Linked DNA regions of Homo sapiens: region 2 is linked to region 1. Evidence: fine-mapped expression QTL. A gene starts in region 1. The other region holds a variant in brackets. All regions are shown on one strand. Distances are from middle to middle.

Region 1 (4,383 bases):
GTCCATTCTCTATGGGATTTAGTTGCCTCATACCCCTTAGATGGGCTCGTGTACATTTGGCTTCCTCCTCCAAGTCTTGGGACCCCAATCAACATGTGCCATTAGTAGTCTCCCCGCACTAAGGATTGAAAATTCTAGCCAAACCTGGATTTAGCAGATGGAGGCTGAAGTCTTTCTATATTAGAAATAAAACCTCATCTTTGATCCCCATCAACTCCCGCTGCTTACGTGTCTTTAAACCATGTTCCAACCCTAACCACAGCCTATTTCAATGTGAATCTCAAACTTAGTTCTAACCCAATGCTAAATCAATCTAAACCCAGCCTTTGATTTAGCCCTAACTGTATTCCCAGGCAGAGCTGTAAATGAAACTAAAACTCTATTCCTTATCGTAACACAAATCCCAGCCATAAACCTGAGCCTCAATTCTAGCTGTATTTCTAACCCTAATCCCAACCTTAACTCTAATCCCAACCTCAAATCTGACCTCAACCTCATTCATAATTCAACTAACCCCAAACTTAACCCCAGCTCTAACATTAGCCCACATCCAGAACCCAATTAAATCTGAAGCCTGCACTGTAGTTTAGTGGAACCACAATGTTACTGCTTTCTCCTCAATCTCTCTGTTCGTGGTCTGACCTGTTTTCCCTCCCACTCACCCTGACCTTCCATGGTTCTTGTTCGTGAGTGGGTCTAGTAATCCACAGGATCACCAAGACCATTTTTTGGACCTCTCTGGACTGACACCCTGGGTACCTGGGTATCCCAGCTTAGGCACCAGCCGCATTGGCTGAATCCCCATGTTTCTCCAGGTCTCTGTTTCCCCATCTGTAAAATGGGGATAATGATCCCTGCTCTTCAAAGGGAGCAGGACAATCCCATAAACCTAAAAATAAATAAGGAAATAAAGATATTCATTGTGTACATCTGGTAGGTCTCAGAGCGCCCTGTTATTGTTGGGAGTTCAGGTGCAACGGCTTGGAATGCAGAGACGCGTGGACTCCTTGTGTTTCCTTAATGTTCTGACTTATTTTTCCCCAGAGGGGTGGGCCCTGGCAGCATCCCTGAGCCCCATAACTCTCCCTAACACTCTTCCTCCTCTGCCCTTTCTGTGCCCCATGGTAGGGATGGGGGCAGTCCCTGACTCCTTTGAGGGAGTTGAGCTATTGAATGGGGTCACTCATGTCCTGACTCCCACCATGGAGTCCAACAAGGCACATGCCCATTCTGTCCCCCTTAGACAAGCCAACAAGGGGTGGCCCTTCACTTGCTCCCCATGCCTACCAGGACCCTCCCCACCCCAGCACGAACTTACCCAGAACTGTGCTGGTTTAGTCAGCCCGATGACCAGTCCAGGTTATGAGGGTCCTTGGTCTCAAGGACCCAGTTAATACTGGGACTGCATTAACCCTCAAGACCTGGCTACTCTTTCTGGGCAGAGAAGCCAGGACACCAAGCGATCCCTCAAGAAGTTCACTCAGAGGGGCTTAGCCATCCTCACAGAGACACCCTGACACAGACATCCTGCCTCCCTCCCACAGACATTGCTGAGGGGTGCACACGCTTACACAGGCACCCCCTTCCCTGGTCCTCTTGGCGCTGTTCTCTCCAACACTCCCTCACTAGCCCATCAGTCACCTTACTCCTAGCACACACCCTGGACCCCCCATAGCACCCCTGCTCCCAGGGGTCCCCTACACTTGGGGATGGCCTTGAGTCGAGTATGGGTGTGGAGGACAGTTCCAGAGGGGACAGCCAGGAGGAGACTCTGTTCCTGCACACACCCCTTCTCTCCTCTTTCAGCTCAGGAGGCCTGAGTCCCTTTGAAAGGCCTGAAGCCTGGGGGAAGGTGGGCTGGACACTCCTGGGGAACCCTATGCCCTGGGATCAGGATTAACTCTTCAGGTCCTGGCCACTCTTTCTCCCAAGCCTGGCTTCTCCTTCCTCTTCCCCACTTCCCCCAGGGAAGGAGGCAGCAAATGAGTGGTGAGGGGAGCCCTTGGAAGCTGTAAATGAGGTGACTGTTGTCACCCTGAGGATGTGGCCAGGAGGAAGTGAAGTTTAACAGGTGCCTAATTACAAGTCCCGCTGGCTGTCCTGTGCCACTCTTAGGACAGGGAAGAGCTTGGGTGAGGGCTGGGTAATGCCCAGGTAGGCCACCCTGTCACCCTGCTAATTAGGGTTCCTGGGACTCCTCCCCAAGGCGGGGACCAGGCCCCCTCCCTCCCATAGAAATAACTCCAGCTGCTCCCCAGCTGGGCACTCATTGCACCTTCCTGCCACCCCAGGCAGTGTCTGGGCCCTCAGCTCCCCCTCCCTCCACCTACCCCCTCACACCCACCACTACGACCCCACGGGATACCCAGCCCAGACGGAGGAAACACCGAGCCTAGAGACATGAGAGTTGGAGGAGCATTCCACCTTCTACTCGTGTGCCTGAGCCCAGGTACGGGGCTGGGCAGGGGGCAGGGTAGCCAGCATGAGGCTAGGTGGGAAGGAAAGGGGCAGCAAGGGCTCACAGTGGAGCCTGGGGCTGCCTGAGTTGCCTGGCAGGGTGCTGCCCACCCTTGCCCTGCTGCAGCCGGGTGTGGGTATTACCAGGGGACCTTTCCCCAGGAGACCCTGTGCCTGATGTTCAGGGTGTGTGTCTGTAGTGCAGAGGTCTTTGAGTGGATCTTTATATGTCCCCTGTCGGGCTCACACATGTGTGCAGGTGCCCTGCAAGCTCATGCCGTGACTAGGAGGAGAGGGATTGATTGCTCTGCAGGAGCTGGAGGTGGGGTAGGAGAGGGGTAAGCACGGGCATTGGGTGAGGGCTCAGGAGGAGCTTGGGAAGGATCAATTTTCATCAGACTGTGTGCTATTCCCAACGCTACTCCTTCTCTCCCAAGGCCAGGGCCAAGGGGCAGGGAAGTCACTTGCCTTGAAAGGGCAAGAGACTAAGTCTGGTGTAAGTCTGAGTGGTTTCTTCCATCATGGCCAGTGACAGCTCAGGCCTGAGACCTCAGCCTTGGGCCCCCTGTGCTATGACAGGGCAGTGCCCCACTCTAGGATGAGGCCTGAGGGTGGTGGGGATGGCAACTCCAGAGACTTCTCACCCCACCAGGACAGGTCCACAGGGCAGGGCTCAAGTTTGGACATTGTGGCTTCCTGCCCAGGTTGGGGCAAGTTCCACCAAGGGGCATTCTATGCCAACATCACTGGAAAGGGCTCCGAGTCCCTCTTGCAGTCTGGATTTGGGATGAAGGGGCATGAAGGAGGAATTTGGGAAGGCGGGGTGACATTTTCAGCCTTTGTGTGAGCGTGAATGTGTATGTGAGTGTGTGGGTGCGTGCACCTGCATGGGAATGATGACATTTCCGGCAGGATAGCTGCAGCCCTTCTCTGTCTGATGAGAGCAGGGCTGGCAGAGTCCACTCGGGAGGCTCCAGCTGTGCTGTGGGGACCCGGACTTCCCCCTGTGTGGTGTGTCAATGGGTGTGTGAGGACAACTCAGCACTGGCTGCATTAACGCATCAATACCCTCAGCTGGAGCCGCCTTTTCTCCCCTCCCTTACCTCCAGAGGGAAGATCAGGAGTTCTGGAAGCACCTTGAAGATTCAGAAAGAATTTGCAAGCAGAGAGTAGGCACCACTATTGAGATGACACCCCGTAAAGCATGGCCAGTTTCTGGTGCTTTTGGGGGGCAAAGAATCACCACTGTCCTCTTCCTTGGAGAGCCCATGTGATTCCTCCATTCCTGTCTCTCCTCAAGTCTCCCATCCAGCTCTCTCTTCCACTTTGCCTTTCTTCCCTCTCTCCAGCCTCTCCTCTCACATTCCCTGTAGTACTTCCTTAGTGCTACAGCAAGAGGAATCAAGGTGAGACATTAGGAGCAACTTCCCAAGGAGAGGGAGGGGTGCGGAAAGGCTGGAACCCTTGGGAGGAGGTTGAGAAGACTTCTAAGGAGATAGAAAAGCTGGGTGAGGCTCCCTGGTCTGGGACAATTGAAGAATCTCTCAGCCTGGTGCAGGGTGGAGGTGCTTTTCTTGCAGCCTGTCGCTCCTTCCCAAGCCCCTCTCCCTGAATGCTTACCATCCTGCCTGGCAGGCTCCTATGGCATGGAGAGAGTCCTTCCTGTGTGGGTGCTTCCAGCGGTGCTTCTCCAGGGTGGAGCCTCTGCTCTCAGCCGAGTTCTGGCTCATCCCTGGCTTGCCTTGAGCAGCCTCAGGATCTGGCAGATGGCAGCAGGATCCTTATCTCAGGAATGAGCTGTTGTTCTCTTGGCCTGGAGCTGGAAGAGGCATCACTAGGTCCCGTTAGAGCCCCAGCAGTCAGCCTGCCTGCTCTGGGTCACCTTGGAGTCTAGCTGGGTTATGACAGAGCTGATGGCCCAGCCAG
Region 2 (4,383 bases), 72 kb before region 1:
TGGCCAGGGAAGTGGGTGGGAGAGAGGGGCTCTTGGGCCCTGAGTGAAACACAGCTCACATATATATAGCACCTTGTGTTTTCAAAATACCTTTTCACCCAAGCCCTTATTATTTATCTCTCACTCCTAAGTAGGAAGGAGGTCATAATCATTCCCATTGCATAGGTGAGGCTGAGTCATGCCACTGATTAGTGGCAGAGCAGAGTCTAGGACCCAGGCCTCCTCACTCCCAGAACAGTGCTCCTCCTGAGGGGGCTTGGCTCTCCCCCAGGCTCTGGACATCCAACCTGGGTTCAGCCCCAGGCCAGTGTGTGGGGGTGGGTTGACAGAATCCTCATTTGGCCTGGGTGCAGTAGACAGGGTGGCCCTGGGCTGAGGACTCCTATGAGGCAGGGCTGGTGGGTGGGCAGCAGGCTGGAGCCCTGAGTGGTCTCCCTGGCCCTTGGACACTGCTTTTTGGGCTGACAGCCCCACTGGGGCCCCTGATGCCTGTCTCCCTTGCAGCACCCCCTCAATTCCAGGAGACACCTCCTGCTGTGTTGGAAGTGCAGGAACTGGAGCCTGTGACCCTGCGTTGTGTGGCCCGTGGCAGCCCCCTGCCTCATGTGACGTGGAAGCTCCGAGGAAAGGACCTTGGCCAGGGCCAGGGCCAGGTGCAAGTGAGTCCTGGGGGTGGACAGAGTGAGCCATATAGAGTGTGAAGGGAAGGTGGGGGCCTGGCAGTGGGGCCAGAGGACAGAGGAGGCAAAGGCCAGGCTGGAGGATGGGCCAGAAGAAGGGCTTGGCATTGTTTGCCCCGAGCCTGGGGTGCTGCCTCCCTCTGCTGGCCAAACTCGGAAGTGCAGGATCTGAGGCTGGCAGGGGAAAGGACTCTTCCTCACCCACTCCTTCCCTAGGTGCAGAACGGGACGCTGCGGATCCGCCGGGTAGAGCGAGGCAGCTCTGGGGTCTACACCTGCCAAGCCTCCAGCACTGAGGGCAGCGCCACCCACGCCACCCAGCTGCTAGTGCTAGGTGCTCTCTGGCGGGAGGGCTGGGGTCCAGGGTTACCTATGCAAGGGGGCTGTGACCTGTGGCTGAATTGGTTCACAGCAAGATAGGAGGGAGATTTGTGCCTGAGGGCAGGGCCCGTGGAAGCTAAGGGGGTTCCCAATGCAGGCTGTTGCTCTGAAACCAGCACCTTAATTTTAAAAGGCTCAGTAAGCAGACAAAGCGATCTTAGTGCCCAGTAGTGTGTTATAGTGGAAAGGACATGGGTGCTTGTGTTAGGCTGTGAGCCAGTTAACTCCTTGAGTCCCAGTTTCTTCATCTTTATAAAGAGACTCATCTCTACCTCTCAGGTGTGTTACAAGAATTTACTTAGGTGCAGCTGAGCCCAGTCACTGGCACATGGTAATTCCTGGCCAAGATCCTTCCTTTAGAAGGGAAACTGAGAAGCAGAAGGCCTGGACTGTGCCTTCATAGAGCCTATTATCTTTGTGGGGAAGTGAGACTAATTGGGGAAACAGGGAAGTGTTGCTGTCCGTGGTACTGTAAGAAAGGCAGTGCCGGGTAATGGTTAAAGGTGTCGTCTGTGGCATCAGGAAGCCTAATATGAATGTTGCCTCTCCTGCTGTCCTTGGGCAATCACCTCACAATCTCTCTGCCTCTGAGCCTTCACTTCTTCATCTAGAAAATGGAGACAATTCCCACCACAAAGCTTTTGGTGAGGATTAAACGAGGTCGTGCAGGTAAAGTGCTTAGCACTCAGTGTCCCGCATGCAGTCAGTGCTCTGTTGTGTCAGCTCGCATCATGACCTCTTCTTACTGACTGCTCATGCGGTACCGGCCCAGAGAGGGGAAGGAGTAGTGGAACTGT[A/G]GTAGCCAGAGGTGCTTTTGCAGGAGGTATGTGGCGCGGCCAGGCCCTTGGGAGGGGCATTCCAGACCGGGGGTGCAGGGAGCAAAGGCATGGAGATGGGGGACAGCCAGCTGCCCATACTGACCTGAAAGAGTTCATGAGGGCTGACATATGGAAAGATGGCTGGCCACGTAGGGAGGGTTTGGATCGCAGGGGTCCACAGGGCTGGGTTTGAGCTTAGTGTAGTAGGAGCCAGGTGCTGTTGCAGGTTCCTGAGCAGAAGTGTTCTGTGGCTCAAGGGGCTGTTTCTGTATGAATGGCCATTAGAGTGGCAGCTGCAGGGGAGCCTGGAGTCAGGGGCTGCTGCAGCATCTTGAGGTGAGGTATTGGGCACCTGGGTTAGGGCCAGAGACAGAGAAGTAATTCAAGAGGTGACAAGCAGGGATACAAATGGTAAATGAGCAGAGTTAAACTGACTCCCCCAAACACACACACCATTCCTAGGCAGTGGAACTGCATGAATGGAGTTGCTCTTGATGGAACAGAGAGAATTTGGAAAGAAGAATGGGTCTCAGGGAGAGGATGAATTCTTGTTACATACAGGGGGAAGCTTCTGCTTCCACTCCCCAAAGCCCTGTAACAACGAGCCCTAAGATTCCAGAGAGCAGAGCTGGGAAGAGTTGTAGAGGTGACCTCAGGGTTCTGGGAAGACTGTGGGCTGAGGCCACCTTCCTCCCCTTGTGCATCCCACAGGACCCCCAGTCATCGTGGTGCCCCCCAAGAACAGCACAGTCAATGCCTCCCAGGATGTTTCATTGGCCTGCCATGCTGAGGCATACCCTGCTAACCTCACCTACAGCTGGTTCCAGGACAACATCAATGTCTTCCACATTAGGTGGGGTCACCCTCATTAGGAAGGTGGAGGTGGGGAATTCACAAACAGTCTCTGAAGAGCCGCTTGGCTGGGCAAGGCCTGGACCCCTCCTCACACATGCCACATTGCAGCCGCCTGCAGCCCCGGGTGCGGATCCTGGTGGACGGGAGCCTGCGGCTGCTGGCCACCCAGCCTGATGATGCCGGCTGCTACACCTGTGTGCCCAGCAATGGCCTCCTGCATCCACCCTCAGCCTCTGCCTACCTCACTGTGCTCTGTAAGCCTGACCCCAGCTTCTCCCTCAGCCTGCTCCCTTCCCCTGGGCCAGGCCAAGCCCCTCTCCCCCAACTTGCCACTACTTTCCCCCAGACCCAGCCCAGGTGACAGCTATGCCTCCTGAGACACCCCTGCCCATAGGCATGCCGGGGGTGATCCGCTGCCCGGTTCGTGCCAACCCCCCACTGCTCTTTGTCAGCTGGACCAAGGATGGAAAGGCCCTGCAGCTGGACAAGGTACAGGCTTGGGGCAGGGGAAGGAGGGTCTTAGCTTGGCGTTATTCTGCTCAGGACAGCAGGGTGGAGTTAGCTCGGTTTAATTCAGTTCAGTGACTGGGGACACACATCTTTTGTGAATTTAATTTGTGTTATAAGACATGTTGCATAGGAAACTACTTAAAACCCCTGAGGAAAAATTTCCATGGTTTAAAGTGGTGGTTTTGTGTCTTCTTTGGGGAAAGAAGAGAGATGATCTCTGGGGAAAATGATGGCAAAGAGTCAAGAAGGAGAACTGAAGTTTCTTTCGTGTGATGACTGGGAAATTGTGTGTCCCGGGGGAACACACACTTCTTACCAGGTGCTGTGTGGGGTAGTGGGTTGAGGGCAGGGGCAAGGAGGCATCCATCCTTAAAGTGGGCACCATCTGGGCAGAGGACAGCAACACTGTCTGGAAGGCCAGGGATGGAGCTCGTGCCTTCCTCTTAGGGTGGTTGAGGATAGACCAGCAACAGATTCTGGGACTTTGGTGATGGGCCTCAAAGAGGACACAGTCATTCCCTTGCAGAAACCAGGGTCAAGAGGCAGGAAGTAGTATAGTACGTTTATGGAATCATGGATCGTCCAATTGGGTGGGAGCCGGAGTGCCTGCAGGGACATGAATGGTGCAGAGAAAGCTGGAAAGACAGGTTAGCATCAAAAGGAAGAACTGGATGCCAAGTTACTATTGCCTCATTCCAAGGCAATTGGGATCTTTTGTCTGCAGAGACTATAAATTTTTGAGGCCTAGTATTGCATCTTTTCATCATAGTGTACCTGGGGCTTCTACAACAATAGTACTCAGTATATCTTTGTTGAATATTTAAGAAAAAAGTCTACAGGCAGTTGGAGCCACTGGAATTTGTTGAGCATTGGTGTGATAGGATCAGAGCTGTGATCAGGGGTTGAGCTTGCCCAGTGGAATGTAGCGGGAGATACTGGACATAGGAAGAGGGGTTCTGAAGCTGCTGAAATGGCCCAGGTGAGAGTTATGGAGTCTGATTTACAGAGGACATGAAGATGAATGGGCTCATGCTCTGACAAAAGGGACTTCCCAGGATGACTGGCTTAGTGAGTATTTCACCAGGGGGAGTGAGGGAACGTGAGGAGGCAGACTTCAGCAAGAAGGATGGCGGGCCCTT

The links. PIP is the estimated chance that this variant, and not a neighbour inherited with it, causes the effect.
Region 2: its variant is fine-mapped to the expression of VSIG8 in whole blood (TOPMed, PIP above 0.99).

The regions. Positions count from the first base shown.
Region 1 is chr1:159,860,539-159,864,921 of GRCh38, reverse strand. It overlaps VSIG8 (V-set and immunoglobulin domain containing 8), which reads left to right and starts at 2,265. Exons shown (of 7, transcript NM_001013661.1): 1 at 2,265-2,449. The coding sequence starts at 2,401. It overlaps LOC107985216 (a long non-coding RNA gene), which reads right to left. Exons shown (of 2, transcript XR_001738263.2): 2 at 1-4,276. RefSeq lists enhancers at 1,937-2,849, 2,850-3,764.
Region 2 is chr1:159,933,030-159,937,412 of GRCh38, reverse strand. IGSF9 (immunoglobulin superfamily member 9) reads left to right here. Exons shown (of 21, transcript NM_001135050.2): 5 at 505-659; 6 at 897-1,014; 7 at 2,591-2,732; 8 at 2,843-2,988; 9 at 3,081-3,223. Among named protein-coding and RNA genes, the nearest start is that of TAGLN2, 9.7 kb to the right of the region's middle. RefSeq lists an enhancer at 1,935-2,435. The variant A/G (reference allele first, on the strand shown) is at 1,859.